2 linked regions of the Homo sapiens genome follow. The protein of the gene in region 1 interacts with the protein of each later gene in a pairwise test. Each region holds a gene or a part of one and is shown on either strand. Other genes may lie near its edges. The genes, in order: ARHGAP30 and RHOU.

What was found.
Region 2: the proteins of ARHGAP30 (region 1) and RHOU interact in binary tests that used the Homo sapiens proteins (3 or more experiments, as listed by UniProt).

Annotation. Positions count from the first base shown.
Region 1 is NC_000001.11:161,064,929-161,074,393, reverse strand, and holds the start of ARHGAP30 (rho GTPase-activating protein 30), read left to right. Parts: upstream 1-4,502; 5' UTR 4,503-4,769; coding exon 4,770-4,866; intron 4,867-9,465. Other genes in the region: NECTIN4 (nectin-4), read left to right, coding at 18-177, 599-674, 1,095-1,169, 1,509-1,733. UniProt on the Homo sapiens protein: GTPase-activating protein (GAP) for RAC1 and RHOA, but not for CDC42.
Region 2 is NC_000001.11:228,730,846-228,739,664, reverse strand, and holds the start of RHOU (rho-related GTP-binding protein RhoU), read right to left. Parts: upstream 4,187-8,819; 5' UTR 3,923-4,186; coding exon 3,661-3,922; intron 1,993-3,660; coding exon 1,934-1,992; intron 1-1,933. UniProt on the Homo sapiens protein: Binds to and activates protein kinase PAK1. Plays a role in the regulation of cell morphology, cytoskeletal organization and focal adhesion assembly during cell migration. Also stimulates quiescent cells to reenter the cell cycle.

The sequences.
Region 1 (9,465 bases):
CAGTGGCCTGTCTCCAGCAGACCCCCAGGAAGACTCTGGGAAGCAGGTGGACCTAGTGTCAGCCTCGGTGGTGGTGGTGGGTGTGATCGCCGCACTCTTGTTCTGCCTTCTGGTGGTGGTGGTGGTGCTCATGTCCCGATACCATCGGCGCAAGGCCCAGCAGATGACCCAGAAATAGTGAGTACTGGGCACTCCTGGGTGGGTAGAACTAAGCTGAGAACAAAGAAGAGGATAGCAGGAGGTGGGCCAGGACCGAGGAGACTGGGTAGGCTGAAAACTGAGGAGTTTCAGACTAGAGGTGGGCAGGGTGTTTCTAGGGCTGAGGAGGAGCTAAGGGTCTGGAGCACAGATGGAGCACTCAATCCTTCCACCTTAGTGAGGCTCAGATCCATGTGCCTGGATGTTGCCAAGTATGCACACGCACACAGCACACACATGCTCTTCAGCCTCACTGCCACCTGCAGCCACACACTCACACTTGCAGGGCCAGCACGGCACCCACACCCTCCGGGCCTGTCTCACTAGGCTCAGCCAGGATAGGCTCACCTTGGGAGGCTGCCACTACCCTCAGCTCCTGACAAGGGTGTGTCTTTCCCAGTGAGGAGGAGCTGACCCTGACCAGGGAGAACTCCATCCGGAGGCTGCATTCCCATCACACGGACCCCAGGAGCCAGGTGTGTGCCAAGGTTGGGTGTATGCATGCAGGGGTGTGGTCGCATTGGGGTCTGCTTGTGCCTGGGCCCCTCTGCAGACCAGGAGCACAGCTCTCTGCTGGGTCAGCCACTGACTCACAGCTGGGGTTGGCCGGGGTAGAGTTGAGAGGGTGTAGCTGCTTTGGGTCTGCTAGGGCTGCTCCAGAAGGCCCCCTTCAGCATTGGCCTAGGGCCTTTTCTGGGAAGCCACCATCAGTTCTGCTTCCAGGGTGGGTTTGTGGTCGCAGTGGGGAAATGAGGATGTTTGTTTCCAGGAGAGAATGGACCTGTTGGGTTGGGGGACAGGCAAGTAGGGAGGAGGCTGGTGGAGGACAAGAGGGGAAGAGGCTGAGGGGAGGAGGCTGAGCCCTGTTCTAACTGCCCCGTGTCTGGGCCCTGCAGCCGGAGGAGAGTGTAGGGCTGAGAGCCGAGGGCCACCCTGATAGTCTCAAGGACAACAGTAGCTGCTCTGTGATGGTGAGGCCCCCGGCCCCACCGGTGTCCCCACCACTCTCCTCGGGCCCCTGTCCTGGTCCCAGATATGGTGCGTCAGCAGCCCCCTTACCAGTCCCTCTTTCCTTAGCCCTGGCTCATGCAGCCCAGCACCGCATCTCTGCTACGTCTTTGTTCTCCCGTCTCCCTCTCCCCATGCCTAACACTTGTTCCTGGTCCCCGATCTCTGGGCCCCTATGCTTCTGAGGCAACCGTTACCCCTGCTTACGCCTGGCCTCTGATCCCACCATGACCCAGCCATGCCCCACCATGTGCAGCTGCCCTGCCTTTGTTCCTGACTTGCCCTTTGCCCTTGGTCTCCAGAGTGAAGAGCCCGAGGGCCGCAGTTACTCCACGCTGACCACGGTGAGGGAGATAGAAACACAGACTGAACTGCTGTCTCCAGGCTCTGGGCGGGCCGAGGAGGAGGAAGATCAGGATGAAGGCATCAAACAGGCCATGAACCATTTTGTTCAGGAGAATGGGACCCTACGGGCCAAGCCCACGGGCAATGGCATCTACATCAATGGGCGGGGACACCTGGTCTGACCCAGGCCTGCCTCCCTTCCCTAGGCCTGGCTCCTTCTGTTGACATGGGAGATTTTAGCTCATCTTGGGGGCCTCCTTAAACACCCCCATTTCTTGCGGAAGATGCTCCCCATCCCACTGACTGCTTGACCTTTACCTCCAACCCTTCTGTTCATCGGGAGGGCTCCACCAATTGAGTCTCTCCCACCATGCATGCAGGTCACTGTGTGTGTGCATGTGTGCCTGTGTGAGTGTTGACTGACTGTGTGTGTGTGGAGGGGTGACTGTCCGTGGAGGGGTGACTGTGTCCGTGGTGTGTATTATGCTGTCATATCAGAGTCAAGTGAACTGTGGTGTATGTGCCACGGGATTTGAGTGGTTGCGTGGGCAACACTGTCAGGGTTTGGCGTGTGTGTCATGTGGCTGTGTGTGACCTCTGCCTGAAAAAGCAGGTATTTTCTCAGACCCCAGAGCAGTATTAATGATGCAGAGGTTGGAGGAGAGAGGTGGAGACTGTGGCTCAGACCCAGGTGTGCGGGCATAGCTGGAGCTGGAATCTGCCTCCGGTGTGAGGGAACCTGTCTCCTACCACTTCGGAGCCATGGGGGCAAGTGTGAAGCAGCCAGTCCCTGGGTCAGCCAGAGGCTTGAACTGTTACAGAAGCCCTCTGCCCTCTGGTGGCCTCTGGGCCTGCTGCATGTACATATTTTCTGTAAATATACATGCGCCGGGAGCTTCTTGCAGGAATACTGCTCCGAATCACTTTTAATTTTTTTCTTTTTTTTTTCTTGCCCTTTCCATTAGTTGTATTTTTTATTTATTTTTATTTTTATTTTTTTTTAGAGATGGAGTCTCACTATGTTGCTCAGGCTGGCCTTGAACTCCTGGGCTCAAGCAATCCTCCTGCCTCAGCCTCCCTAGTAGCTGGGACTTTAAGTGTACACCACTGTGCCTGCTTTGAATCCTTTACGAAGAGAAAAAAAAAATTAAAGAAAGCCTTTAGATTTATCCAATGTTTACTACTGGGATTGCTTAAAGTGAGGCCCCTCCAACACCAGGGGGTTAATTCCTGTGATTGTGAAAGGGGCTACTTCCAAGGCATCTTCATGCAGGCAGCCCCTTGGGAGGGCACCTGAGAGCTGGTAGAGTCTGAAATTAGGGATGTGAGCCTCGTGGTTACTGAGTAAGGTAAAATTGCATCCACCATTGTTTGTGATACCTTAGGGAATTGCTTGGACCTGGTGACAAGGGCTCCTGTTCAATAGTGGTGTTGGGGAGAGAGAGAGCAGTGATTATAGACCGAGAGAGTAGGAGTTGAGGTGAGGTGAAGGAGGTGCTGGGGGTGAGAATGTCGCCTTTCCCCCTGGGTTTTGGATCACTAATTCAAGGCTCTTCTGGATGTTTCTCTGGGTTGGGGCTGGAGTTCAATGAGGTTTATTTTTAGCTGGCCCACCCAGATACACTCAGCCAGAATACCTAGATTTAGTACCCAAACTCTTCTTAGTCTGAAATCTGCTGGATTTCTGGCCTAAGGGAGAGGCTCCCATCCTTCGTTCCCCAGCCAGCCTAGGACTTCGAATGTGGAGCCTGAAGATCTAAGATCCTAACATGTACATTTTATGTAAATATGTGCATATTTGTACATAAAATGATATTCTGTTTTTAAATAAACAGACAAAACTTGTTCTGTCTGGCTCCTGTCTTGCCCCTTGAACTGTGTAAGCTCTGAGTCACATACTCTCTGTCTCGGTACCATCCTTCCTGTAGTCCCAAGTAGGGGAAGACTTAGGATGCCTGTAGCTGGGAGGGAAGGGAAAGAATTGGCCTCCACAAGGCCTTTGGCCATCTCTGAGAGTCCCCTGGTAGGAAAGTGAAGCTAAGAACCCTTTCGAGGATGGCCAGTACCTTAGTTTGCAAAGTGTTTTAAATTCCTTTTTTTTTTTTTTTTGAGATGAAGTCTCACTTTGTCACCCAGGCTGGAGTGCAGTGGCACTATCTCAGCTCACTGCAACCTCCGACTCCCAGGTTCAAGCGATTCTCTCACCTCAGCCTCCCGTATAGCTGGGATTACAGGCACCCGTCACCATGCTCAGTTAGTTTTTGTATTTTTAGTAGAGACAGGGTTTCACCATGTTGGCCAAGCTGGTCTCGAACTCCTGACCTCAGGTGATTCACCCGCCTCAGCCTCCCAAAGTGCTGGGATTACAGGCGTGAGCCACTGCGCCCAGCCTGAATTCCTTATTGTACTGGAGACTCAACAACAGCTATGTGAAATAGGCAGCAGTGTACCCTTTTTTACAGGTAAAGAAACTGAAACTCAAGTTAAATGAGTTTTACAGACTCTTAGAGGTGGGAGGATTTAAAGGTCCTCTAGTCTGCTCCCTTCATTTTCCTAGGTTTGGAAACTGAGGCTCAGTGAAGTAATGCGATTTGACTGAGGTGCTAGATCCATCAGAGGCAGAACCCAGGCATCCTCCCTTGTGAGTGTGCTTTTTACAGCCCTGTGTCAACTTGCTCCCAGGCAAGCCCCAGGTCTCTACCTTGGACCCAAGAATTCTGGTCTCTAAGGGAGTTGGTCACCTGCTCACACCACAGACGCCATCACCCCACCCCAGGGCTCTGACATCACCTCCCCTGACCAATGAATGAAGTCCAAGCAAAGGGTGAGGATGTGAATGTCAGCTACCTCCCCCACCCTAGGCCCTGTGGTTGCAAAGATGCTCTAACAGGAAGTGGGTTAAGGAGCTGCACTGCTTCCTGCCCCCTAAAGCTGAGCGGGGCGAGGAGGGCGAGTGCCAGGCTGGGCCACGAGACACAGGACACAATTTCTTGCCAGGGTCCTGGTAGCTTCCTCTTCAACAGCCACTTCCGTGTGGCCGGGGCCCCAGGGGCAGGAGCTGCTGCCCGTTGCCCAGGCCACCCTCCACCCCCAATTGGGAGCCCTGCCCCCCTGGGGCCGGGCCAAGCCCAGCAGCTGGCTGGGATCCCATGGGGGACTGGTAGGGCACAGGTCTTGGGGGATAGAGGTGACCGGGCCAGTGCCCTGGGGCTCTGGCCATGAAGTCTCGGCAGAAAGGAAAGAAGAAGGGCAGCGCAAAGGAGCGGGTTTTTGGGTGCGACTTGCAGGAGCACCTGCAGCACTCAGGCCAGGAGGGTAAGGAGGCCGGCTCAGCTTCTGCAGGGTGGGTGGGGAGGCACTGGGCATCTGCAGCCCGATCCAGCCTGAAGGGCAGAAGCAGTTTCCGGTGCTCCTGGGGAAGGGGCAGTGGCCTGGGGTCACCATTCAAGAGAACTGTAAGTGGGCAAGACAGGAAATGTGGCTCAGTGAAGAAGGCAGGGCGGCTCCCTTGTGTAACTTTCTGGGGATGGGGTGGCTGAGGGGATGAGAATGTGAGTACCCAGGTAGCAGTGAGGGGGAGGATGGAGAGACTGGAAACCGAGGAGGAGTGGATGAAACAGCGGGCAGGTGACTGGGAACAGGAGAGGGAGGGTGAGGCGACAGGGTCAGGAGAGGAGTGGCTGAAGGGGAAATGATTATCCTTAGGTCTGAATGAAAGGAGACAGGGAAATGGCCCCAGAAGGGTCTCAAGATGGCCCTTGAGGCGGGTGGTTTCCTGGCTGGAGAACACCCAAGGACAAGGTCATGGGCTCTGTTCCCACTGCAGCCTTGCTGGGCCGCAGGGGATGATGTCGGGCTGGAAACAACCTCTGCCCCTAGTCTTTGTGATTCTCTTGTTGTCCCTGTGCAAAAGAGAAACAGGTTCAAAGTGGGGGGCAAGGGGAGAAGCTGCTGAAATGGGGAAGAATGAAAGAGAGGGTGTGAGGCCTGGCTTGAAGCTGGAGGTGGAGGGTGCAAAGGAGGGTGGGTGTGGAGCTGTCTGTGGAGCTCACCCAGCTCCCTCCCTGGGTTACCTTAGAGTGGGCTTTGAAGCCAGAAGGACCAGGGACAATATCAGGTTCACAACGGGGCCTGGCATGGAGCAGCCACTCAAAATCATTTCTTGATTCAATTTGAAATTGAACCCAGGCACCCTGGCTGCCCAGCCCAGCTTGTTTTTGGCACTTCAAGCTCCTCCTAGAGAAAGGCATAATTCTTTCCCCACTCCACCCCATTCCACCCCACCCCAATCTGTCATTTCCTCTTTGTCCCCTCCTCTGCTCTGGGCTGTGGTGCTTGCAGCGGAGGGAGGGTGATGGTGGTTCCCAGATCATTTCCTGCTCTTAGCCCCGCCCCTGCGTCCCCAGACACCTCCTTCCCCTTTTCTCCTCCAGTGAGAGGACCCCTATCCCCATTGCCCTTGGTTAAGGGAAAGCCCAGACCCCAAGGAAGAGTGTTAAACAGCTGAAGCGAGCTTATTTGAGCCTTCCTCTTCTCACTGGGCAGAGTGGAGGTGGCACAGCCATCAGTGCAGGGCTTACTCCTTTCTAAGGGACTCCTCTCAAGAGCTATGATTCTTAGCCAAGGATTATGAGATTTAATTGGGGATGATGTGCTCCTCCCAGCTCAATGCAAACCCTCAGTTCAGCCTTTCCTGGTACTGCCCTTTTTTGTGGTCCACCAACCAATTTTATCTTGAAACACTGAACCCACAGCCAGCCCAGACCCTGCTCCTATAACCCTCCCGGCCTCTTCCTGGATTCCTAGCAGGGAAGGGGCACACTCTCTAGAGGGGACAGACAGATCTGATTGCTGAATCCTGATCCTAGGTGAATCCGAGAGCAGGAGACCAGAACCTCACAGAACCCAAGGGTGGGTTGATCTTGGGCACCAGAGTAGCAGTGGTGGCTCCTTCCCTATCCCTCAGGTCTTCCTGGTACAGAGAGGTGGAAAGTGGAAGGAAGGACAGAGAGAGGCTGGTGATGGTTCCTCTCTTTAATCCAACATCCACAAAAAAATGAGAGCAGAGAGATCTTTGTTTTCGCTTAATTTATCCTCCCTGATCACGTTGGTCTCCCCCATCCCCACAGCCTTGCTCCATCTCAGCCCTCTCTCCAGCTCTTTGCCCCCACATGGGTCTCTTCCTTCCTTAAGCCCTGTATATACTGAATTCTTTCTTTTCCTAATCTTTGATAGATTGTTCAGGTTTCTTTCTTTCTTTCTTTCTTTCTTTTTTGAGATGGAGTCTTGCTCTGTCCCAGGCTGGAGTGTAGTGGGGTGATCTCGGCTCACTGCAACCTCTGCCTCCCAGGTTCAAGCAGTTCTCCTGCCTCAGCCTCCAGAGTAGCTGGGATTACAGGCAGGCACCACCACACCCAGCTAATTTTTGTATTTTTAGTAGAGACAGGGTTTCACCATGTTGGCCAGGCTGGTCTCGAACACTGACCTCATGATCCACCCGCCTCGGCCTCCCAAAGTGCTGGGATTACAGGCGTGAGCCACCGCACCTGGCCGATTGTTCAGGTTTCTAATTCTCAGGTCCCTAAGCTTTTGGCCTTCCTCCCTGACCCTACTCTTATTTCCTCGATGTCTCCATCCCTTTGACTTCATCGCTCCAATCCTGTCTGTAGGTTTTATCTCTGATCTCATCTCTCTGATCTCTATCTCCCTAACTCCCCCATCTCTGTGACCCTGTTGTCTCTTCCCCCATCTCCTTGACCCAGTTCTTCTATGGCTGTGACTCCTTAGGCTTTTGAGTGTCCCCTTTAAAGGACTCTGGAGGTTCAAAATCAGCAGAGAAGGATAGGATAGAGAAGACCTGGTTTGTATGCTGCTCATGTGACAAAAACCTGGTGGTTTAGGTGACAGCAGACTATTTATGAGTCAAAAGAGTTGGCTTAGCATTAGGCACCCGAGAGTACAGCAGCAGCTCAGACAAGGAGGGGCCTGCCCTATCTCTGCATTCAATGCTGGGAACCTGAGGTCAGTGGGATCCTAGAAAATGGGAGTAGGTACTGAAACGATGGATGGTGAACTGTAGGACTGAGACTAAGACGAGGCAAGAGACATGACTAGGGTGCAAAATTTAAGGAAGCACTCACTTTCAGTGTCGTACAATTGCCCTAGGTGCCTTTTTTTTTTTTTTTTTTTTTTTTTTTTGAGATGCAGTCTTGCTCTGTCACCCAGGCTGGAGTGCAGCACAACCATCTTGGCTTACTGCAACCTCGACCTCCAGGGTTCAAGCAATTCTCCCTGCCTCAGCCTCTCGAGTAGCTGGGACTACAGGCACCACCACGCCTGGCTAATTTTTGTACTTTTTAGTGGAGACGGGGTTTTGCCATGTTGGCCAGGCTAGTCTTGAACTCCTGAGCTCAGGTGATCCACTCGCCTCGGCCTCCCAAAGTGCTGGGATTACAGGTGTGAGCCACCACACCAGGCCCCTAGATGCCTCATTCTCAAGGAGGTACTCAAGACCGTGCATGGGCATGGTTGGCATCTCCATGGCCCTGAGAATAAGTGCTTCCTTAAATTTTGCACACTAGATGCTTCCCTAATCCCACCCAACTCCTGGCTGTGGTGTGCAGGAGGATGAAGGGTCTGAAAGCCAGGTCGTATGAGGAGAGTTGAAAGATTTTGGTTGGCTGAGCATGGTGGCTCACGCCTGTAATCCCAGCACTTTGGGAGGCCAAGGCGGGTGGATCACTTGAGGTCAGGAGTTTGAGGCCAGCCTGGCCAACATGGTGAGATTCCGTCTCTACTAAAAATACAAAAATTAGCTGGACATGGTGGTGTGCGCCTGTAGTCCCAGCTACTCGGGAGGCTGAGGCTTCAGTGAGCCAAGACTGCACCACTGCACTCCAGCCTGGGCAACAAAGTGAGACTCTGTCTCAAATAAATAAATAAATAAATAAATAAATAAATAAATAAATAAATAAGGGGCCGGGTGCAGTGGCTCACGCCTGTAATCCCAACACTTTGGGAAGCCAAGGTGGGTGGATCACCTGAGGTCGGGAGTTTGAGACCAGCCTGACCAACATGGAGAAACTCTGTCTCTACTAGAAATATAAAAATTAGCCGGGCAGAGTGGTGGGTGCCTGTAATCCTAGCTACTTGGGAGGCTGAGGCAGGAGAATCTCTTGAATCTGGGAGGCGGAGGTTGCAGTGAACTGAGATCGCGCCATTGCACTCTCCAGCCTGGGCAACAAGAGTGAAACTCCGTCTCAGAAAAAAAAAGAAAAGAAAAAAGAAAAAAGAAAAAGAAAAAAGAAAAAGGAAAGATTGGGATTGATGAATTTATTGATTATTTTCTTCATTCCATATTTCTGTCATACTTTATTCAACAAAGAGCTTGGAATGACTTTCAAAACCTAAAACTTTACAAAAAATTAGAATAAATGATTGAAGGAATTGGGTTGAAGGAAAAACAAGAGGAAGAGAAAGATCAGCACCCAGAAATGCATATTACATTGTTCTGTATGGTTCTTAGAGGTGGGCTCTGAGCTTCCTAGTGGTTAAAGAGGTAAACATAGGCCAGGCCCAGTGGCTCACGCCTGTAATCCCAGCACTTTAGGAGGCCGAGGCAGGCAGATCACTTGTGGTCAGGAGTTCGAGGCCAGCCTGGCCAACATGGTGAGACCCCATCCCTACTAAATAACATAAAAATTAGCAGGGCATGGTGGCGTGCACCTGTAGTCCTGGCTACTCAGGAGGCTGAGGCACCAGAACTGCTTGAATGCACCCCAACTCAAAATAAATAAATAAATAAACATAATCAAGTGCAAGACTCATGGGCCCATAAGGAAAAAAAGTTAGATGGTTTAGGAGAACCACAGCTTTTTCCCCCTTCCCTTCCCTTCTTCCCTTCCCTTCCCTTCC
Region 2 (8,819 bases), about 68 Mb from region 1:
CCTGTATTTTCCTGACTTCCATCTTATCCTCAGGGTCTGACTTCAGCAGGTCCGATGGCTATGTTTACTGACATGTTCCTCTGCCTGTGTTTTATTTTTTTTGAGATGGAATCTCTCTCTGTCAACCAGGCTGCAGGGCAGTGACGCGATCTCAGCCCACTGCAACCTCCGCCTCCCAGGTTCAAGCAACTGTCTGCCTCAGGCTCCTGAGTAGCTGCTATTACAGGCGCCCGGCACCACACCCAGCTAATTTTTGTATTTTTAGTAGAGACGGGGTTTCACCATCTTGGCCAGGCTGGTCTTGAACTCCTGACCTCATGATCCACCCGTCTCAGCCTCCCAAAGTGCTGGGATTACAGGCGTGAGCAACCGCGCCTGGCTGGCCATGTTTTAAAACTCAGAAAACCTGACCCCCTGGTAGACAAAGCATCCTCACTTCATACAAGGAAATGAAGCTTGAATTATAAATATCACCATTGCATTCAGAAAGATTCAGTGCTAGAAGTGACTGTATTCTTTGATTTTTCTTTTTTTTTACCCCCAAGAGATGGGATCTTGCTCTGTCGCCCAGGCTGGAGTGCAGTGGCACCATCATAGCTCACTACAGCCTCAAACTCCTGGGTTCAAGCGATCCTCTCACCTCAGCCTCCTGAGTGGCTGGTGGCTGGGACTACAGACAGTGCCACCACACCAGGCTAATTTTTTTATTTTGTAGAGATGATGTCTTGCTATGCTACCCAGGCTGGTCTCAAATTCCTGGCCTCATGCAATCCTCCCACCTCAGCCTCCCAAAGAGCATGAGCCACCACACCCAGCCTGATTTTTGTTTTCTACAGACAATACAATACGGACAGTGCTTGGTTTTTCCAAGCTGAAGTGCTCCCAAGCTATGGCCTGCACCAGCCCGGTGTTCCTTGGAGATCAAGGCTCCACGGTCTTATGTCATCTTCAGGTTTAAAAAATAAGATCTGTCCTTAGCTCTGAATCTGCTGTCCCAGAGTAGGTGAGCAACTTGGAAGCTCTGGCGTAGATGAGGCTCTGGGGGGCAGTGGAAAGCCAGTGCCTTCATAAACACAGATAGTCATGTGATGGCACCTCAGAAAGTGAAGGGGGCACTTTCACCTGCCTACAAAGTACCCCCGGAACTTTGCTGAACTCTAGAACATACTAGAGAGACAAGTTCATTAACTATCACTTTGCCAAAATCAAGTACCCCTGGGTGTTCACAAGGCACAGCCTGACTTCAATGACTCGAGTACCCACCAATGGGGGCTTCTTCTGGGGAACACAAAGAGGGAACCCTACACTCCCTGGCTATTTCCTCCAAGGGCCCAGCCCTCGAGACAAGAACCAGCGTTCACAGTTTGGATAGAATAAGCCCAGTTAGTTCATCCCTCCAGCTTAGGACTGCTCTGACAAATGTATCTGTGCTTCAAGTGATGGGGCTGGTCCTAGCGAGTCAAACCATAGCTCAGGAAGGGAAATATTAACCCTTACTGATGTAAATTCCATCTTTTTCTTGAGCAAATTTCTTCAATATCTGACTCACTGGCCTTTAATAAAACGATTATAAGACATCACTAACTTAGTTTGGGAAATGATGACAAAGCATCACTGAAATTTTTTCATAAAAACCAGGGAGTAAGTAATAGAAACTCCTACAAGAGCTGTTCTTGACACTGCTTCCTCCCTTGCCTGGTTACGCAGAGCTGGGCCAAACCCTGCTTTATTAGTTTGGAGGTATCTTCCTCTGCTTCCTGCCGGCCAATAACCTGGCCCCTGCCCACCCTCAGAGAAGGGCCAACAGCAGGGGTGGGTCCACTTCATGAGGCTTTAGAATGACCCAGTTACTGACTGAGGGAATCAAAGGTTATTTGGAAATCTTTAAAAGGCTGTTTCCTTTCCCAGCACTGAGCTGTAACGTGATACTGACCTGTCCGGCAGTGTCACAGAGTTGGAGTCTCACGGGCCGCCCATCCACAGACACCACCGCTTAAAAACAAAACCAAAATGACAATCAGGAGGTGTCTTTTAACCCCTTTCGGAATACTAATAGTTTTAGCTTTCACTATCATTCTCACTCCAAACCCCTTTGCTCCTATTTTAGGTCCTCTAATGAATTAAAGACTAGCCAAAAACAAGGAGGCCCTGTGGAGGCATTTTTGTATACAAACCCACGGCTGGCAAGTCACTCCATTACCGTGAACCAGGCAGCAAATCCCTGAACGCTTTGATGGTGACCCTAAAAAGGCCTATGCTTTTCTCCCAGTCCTGGAAGATTTATTTTCCTGTCACACTTGTTTCAAAGGACCTAAAAACAACACTGGGGGTAAATGGGAAGCAACCCTGCAGTTTTAAATCAGTGGAAAACCTCACAAATAATTCTGTTTTCCCTTGGGAAAGGTTCCCCAACTTCAGGGTTTATCATACAATTCTAGTGTGTTTTGAGAACATGTGCAAACACAGGCTGCCCGCATTGTCCTGTTTAAGAAATGAGGGCACTCCTTATCTCTATGTCAGGTCAAAAGGAGGATTAAAAAAGAAAAAAGAAAGCCATGGCCCCCTTTCCACTGGGATCCGGGGACTCGGGGAGTGTGGAGAGGCCTGCAGCAGGACATGTTGTGGAGGTTTCTATTTTAATTAAGCAGTCAGTTTTGTCTCTTTCTACACAACTTTCTAATTGTTTCTAAATATTTATACTAGTCAGCTGCAGGGGTGGGGTGGGGGGAGGGGAAGAAACAATACCCTGCGGTGGGAACCCACCAGTACAGCACCCATTTCTCTAAGGTACCTTTGGGATGAAAGGAAGGTCAGAGAAGCAATTTTTTTTTAAAGAAGCAAGACAGTTAAGTGTTTCATACTAGTTTCTGTGAATTTTAACTTTTTCTTAAATTTCAAAAAGACCTGAATAGCAAGATAGAGAATTCCTTTCTCTTTGTATCTACCAAGGGAAATGGCATCGCACCCGGTACATAGGAGCTTTAAGTAGCTTAAAGGGATCCTGAAAAGATACCAACAATCAGAATCCGAGCCCATGTGGGCAGGGAAGGTGGTGGGGCTCAGAAGAAAGAAATGGTGTTTACTCTTCAGGTTTCATCCAAACCTAAGCCTTCACGAGGGCCGCTCGCGCTTTTTCACTAAATCAAGTGTTTTCCCGGCGTCTCCGCGGCTCTTTAAAGCGGAGACGCCCCTTGTGAGCTGAGCCGCCTAAAAGCAAAGGAGCGACGCTCAGGTAAAGGCACCTGCGCGTCACCTTCTGATTGAAACTCTGCAGCGGCGCCAGCGACGTCGCCCTCAGGAAACTTTGCTCTATGCAACAAACTGACCGGGCACCCTGAACTCAACCTGTTTCACTCCTACTTATCTGTTGCTTAAATTGTGAGATTTTTTTTTTTTTTTTTTTTGGCAAGGCTCTGACTGCCGCTCCGCCCTCCTCTCTCCAAGCCCACTCCGCCGTGGTCCTTTCGTGTTAGCTCCGCGCTTGCCCGGTCCCTGAGACTCAGGAAACGTCCTGCACTCCTCATTTGTCCGGCTTCCCAGCTGGAGCCGCGCCCGGGGCCCTGCAGCCCCCTTGGGAACCTCGCGACCCTCGCGCCACCTTCCTTCCCCTGGGTGGACCGCGGCCACGCGCCCCCGGCCCCGGCCCCCCGGCCAGCTCACCGGAGAAGTTGTCGAAGGCAGTAGGGATGTACTCGGTGGGGTAGCCGTTGGTGGTGTAGCTCACCACCAGGCTCGTCTTGCCCACCGCGCCGTCGCCGACCAGCACGCACTTGACGCCGCGCCCCTCGGCACCCCCCGCACGCCCCCGGCCCCCCGGCTCCCCAGGCCCGCGTCCCCCGCGTCCACCGCGCTCCCGACGCGGCGGCACCGGAGGCGCCTCGCAGCGGTCGGGGAACGCGGGGTCCCCCTGCTGCGGGGGCATCGATCCGCGAGCGCGGGCTTGCGGTCGCGGGCTAGCAGGGCCCGGCCCGACCGCCCCTCCGCCCCGGAGGGTTGCGGTAGGGAGGAGCTGTCACCGACAGCTGCGGGCGCGTCCCCGGCCCTGGAGAGTGGCGGTTCCGGGCCGCACGGCCAGTAGACAAAGGCGGCCAGGGAGGGTCGTGGCTCCGCGCTCCGGCGGCGCCAGCCGCTCTGCCCTGCGCTGTTGGAGGACAGCGGTCCGAGCGCCGTGGATCCCAAGCGCTCTGTCTCCGCCCGGCTTCCCGGCGACACGACGCGTGGGGGGCGGGCAGGCGGGCGGGCTGGCGGGGAGGGAAAAGAGGCGGGTCTGGCCGAGCGGCTCGGTCCCCGCGCCAAGACCACAGCGCCCCCCGCCTGCGCGCCGCGCGCCTGCACCCGCGCCCGAGGCGCCGCCGCGACCAGGCGGGGACTGCGAACACTGGCGCGGGAGGACCTGGAACACACGTTCCGGGGGACCCCGCGCACCCGGTCCGGGAAGCGACGCCCGAAGGAGCCGGGCCAGCCTCCGCAGCCTCCTCCCCAGCTCCCAAGAGGGTGACCACCGCGCGACTGGCCCGGGAGGTTCCGCTTTCTGGCGCCCACGCGAGCCAGGAAGCCTGAGCCGCCTCCTATTCACTCCGTGGAGCCCCCGGCTGGCCACGGCTCCACCCAGGGGGAAAAATGAAGTGTCCTGGAGGCCTGTCCTGCGAATGAGATTGAATTAACAGACAGCTTTTTTCCTTAAGTCTAACTGCAGCTGATCGTGTGATTTTTTCTCATTTTGAAGCAAAAGGATGCCAGCTCCATTGTGAATGCTCCTTTGACTTTGTCTTTCGGCATGCCGTGAACCTTTATACATGTATGCTCCAGAAATTTTTTTATACCCCCAATTCCTTCATTTACTTAAAGGTAATTCGGAGACATTAATATGTCTGAAAAAATATTCCGTTTCCCTTTGATTCATTTCTCTCTCTGCCTTCCTTCTACATGTGGTCAACAGTCTATTCAGAAAAAGGACGCCTCTTAGCCAAGTCAGAATACCAAGAGTCCTGGGGGTGTACAGCGTGGTGTGAGAAGGGCCACATATTATTAATACACATTGATACTAGTGGTAGTAAAAATAACAATAACAAATACTGAACTTTCATAATGTGTCAGATACTGTTGTAAGCACTCTTCAAGAACTAATTCTTTTAATCTTAACATTACTTACAGATGAGAACACCTGAGGCACAGAGATATTAAGTAACGTTTTGGGATTCCACAAGCTAGTAAGTGGCAATGCCAGGATCCAAACCCAAATAGTCTAGCCCCAGAGCCTGAGCTTCTAACCAAAATCCTGGAGGCAAAAATAAGTCAGTATGATAAACGTAATCTTGAACGTATGGCCATGGTCAGAATGCAGAGATGGATTTATCAAGAAGTTAGAAGCTTGAATCCAGGACCCCTGACTTGCAAAGGACACTTTCACATTGGAAGACCTAGCAATGTGTACACGTGGTAATATGTTTCTGTAAATTTTGAAAAAAAAAAAAGTATTTTAATCACCACCAGTTATGTTCACTGTCTTTTTAAACTGTAACTTACCCTCATATTGAGTGACTTTGAAGAGGCCATGAAGATTTTGGGGATCAGCCAAAGAAAGTGAAGTTGGGGAGACCCAAACAGGTTGTTTGGGTGTAATGGGATACAGAATCAGGATGAAGGTGAGATAAGGGGGATGTCAAGGATGCAAAATTTATGACAAATTGAGCATTCAGAGGCAATATCAAAAAACAACAAATTTAGAGGGCCCTTACTCTCAGGGTCAGGCAAGTGCCAATGTTAAGTTTTGAGCCTCAGGTACCTGACTTGCCTCTCCCTCGCCCTGGCTGTGATGACAGGATATATTTATGTGGTTTACAGTTCTCCTATGTAGATATGTTGTTGCTAGCCATCCAGGTATAGGAATGGCTACCACTGACATACCTATGACCCTCTGTGAGAGTCACATTGGTGCCCTTAACTGTCTTACTTTCCCCAACACTAGAAGGGTTCCAGTAGCAAGAGTAGCAGAGCTTGAGATGGGCAGAGCTGGAAGCTAGTCTGGCAATTCTTTCCATCATAAAGCACCTAATATCGGCTGGTGCGGTGGCTCACGCCTGTAATCCCAACACTTTGGGGGGCTGAAGCAGTCAGACCGGTTGAGGCCACGAGTTCGAGACCAGCTTGGCCAACATGGCGAAACCCTGTCTCTACCAAAAATAAAAAAATTAGCCAGGTGTGGTGACTCACACCTGTAATCCAAATACTCCAGAGGCTGAGGTAGGAGGATCACTTGAGCCTGGGAAGTCGAGGCTCCAGTGAGCCCTTGATCAACCAATATACTCTAGCCTGGGCGAGAGTGAGACACTGTCTCAAAAAGAAACAAACAGAAGAAAACACAACATTGTTAGAGAAGGTTTGGTTCTCTCTACTAAACCTGATCAAAACAGAAGTTGTCTGCTGTCAGAAATGTACCTGTACTCTAAATGCAGCAGATACACTTACAAATGCATCATACATTTTTGGAGAAAAATCACATGAAATGAATGATCTGAATTCCCATGTTTGTAAGGACATGAGGCTGTAGTAGTACAACAAAAAGCAAGTTCACCTGTGTGTGAAGTAACTTCCTATTGTTCTTATAGAAAATATCTTACAAAACTGAAGAAGTGATCAAAGGGTATGCAACTGAAAAATGAAAATAATGTCATAGAAGTGTGTCAAGCAGTTTATTAAAATGTCATGTCTTATGTATTTTGTTTAAGTTTATGGTGTTTGTTAGCCTTTTAAAATTTGTAACTTATTGTGATGCATTTCTCACTTTAAACATTTGTTTTTGTATCTAATTTTCTATTCTTAATTTTGTATTTTTTTTTCTTAATGAAGTCTCACAAATGTGATAAGCCTCAGGCCCTACAAAACTTGGCTTTGCCCCTCCATCTGGCCAGCTGTCAGTTTTTGTGTCCTGTGCGTCCCCCTCTTGCTTTTCCCCTTCTCATGCTGAATATCATCCCACGCCCACTCATTTGGGCCCGTTTTTCTGGACACAACTTAGTCAGCTCCCTGCATCCTTATCTAAAATGCCGGGAACTAATGTTTGCCCTATTCATGAGACTCTTCTGTAGGCAACATAGGAAATCAGACCCCACGCCAAACAGTTCGGTATTTCATCCAAGTCCAAAAGCAGAGAGATGACAGAATGCCTACCACTTTACCCCTTTACAGAATGCCTTTACTTTACCCCTTTTTACGTTGAACTGTCCCGCACCCACTCATTTGGGTCCATGTTTCTGGGCTCGACTTAATCAGTCCCCTACAGCCTTATCTAAAATGCTTGGAACTAATGCTACAAGAAGCCCTCCAAGGTGTGTGGGTTCAAGTTGTATGATATATTTGTTTGTTTATTTGCTTATTGTCTGTCTCCTCTTACAAGCTCCATGAAATCAGAAACTTAATGTTGCTCATTCCTATATCCCACACTTAGAAGCACGTGGGGCAAGTAGTAGGTGCTTAATAAATACTTAAGCAGTGGTAAATACGTAAGTGAAAGGAAAACATGTTTTGAACTTGACGGTTCTGCAAAAAAGAAAGAAAGAAAAGGAGAAGAATGTAAAACATGGACTCTCAAAACATGGACAGTTGTATTTTTATGCTTTTATAAAATATTTTTAGAATGAATGAAGGAAATTTGACCACTTCTTGCAGCTATTAATAGAAAACCATGTCTTTGCTCAGTTTTAAGACAAAAAATGCATTACACCTCATGTATTCCCATTTGTTTTTCACCAAGACAGTACAACGCCTTCATTGTGCAGTGGGCCTAGAAAATTCTGAAAACTGGGTGCAGAATTTCCGTTCTTAAGATCTTGTCTCTCTGAGGCCCTCCAGCCCAGCTGTGAGCATTCATCCCCCCTACCTACCCCCAACACCTCCTCCAGGACTTCCAGCAACCCACCCCTGGGTCCCCAACAACATGTCAGAGAAGGTGTCTTCTCCTCGAACTACAGGTCTGTAACCCCTTCCTCCTTCTTCCATGAACTTGCTCTTTCTCCGCTTAGGTGTCACCTCCTCCAAGGATGTTTATTTTTCTGCCTAATTTTCTATACTTAATTTTGTGTTCTTTTTCTTAATGAAGTCCTCAAAATGTGATAAGCTTCAGGCCCGACAAAACTTGGCTTTGCTTCTCCATCTGGCCATCTGTTCGTTTTTGTGTTCCATAGCCTCCCTCTCTTGCTTTACCCCTTTTTATGTTGAACTGTCCCACACCCACTCATTTGGGCCCATCTTTCTGGGCTCAACTGAATCAGTCCCCTACAGCCTTATCTAAAATGCTCAGAACTAACGCTTGCCCTATTCATAAGAATCTTCTACAGGCAACGTAGGAAAGCAGACCTCCACACCAAACAAATTGGTGTTTCATCCAAGTCCAGAAATGTTCCCTGACCCCTTATGTGGATATATTTGTGCTTGTCCCTATCACAGCCCTTATCTAGTGAAATCATCTACTGATTATACAACACCTACCCTTGCTCATAATCCCCTAAAAGGGAGGATCCCCAGTTCACAAAACTCTTCCCCTAGCACAGTATTAATACATTTTCTAGGATTTTTTCCATCAAGTTATTTTAACTGTTCCACTAGCAAATAATTAATAGTGAATTTGTAGTTTTTTACTAAAATGGTAAAAAGAAAAAAAGGTCCTAATAGACTTTCCACTGTGTACATGTCACTTTTGTATCTTTTGATATATTTAAGAAATAAATAAATTTTTATCTGCTCAACATATTCCTTGCCAGGTGTCATTGTCATCATCATATTAAATATAAAGCTGTTTTTCCTGCTATTGATAACATTTC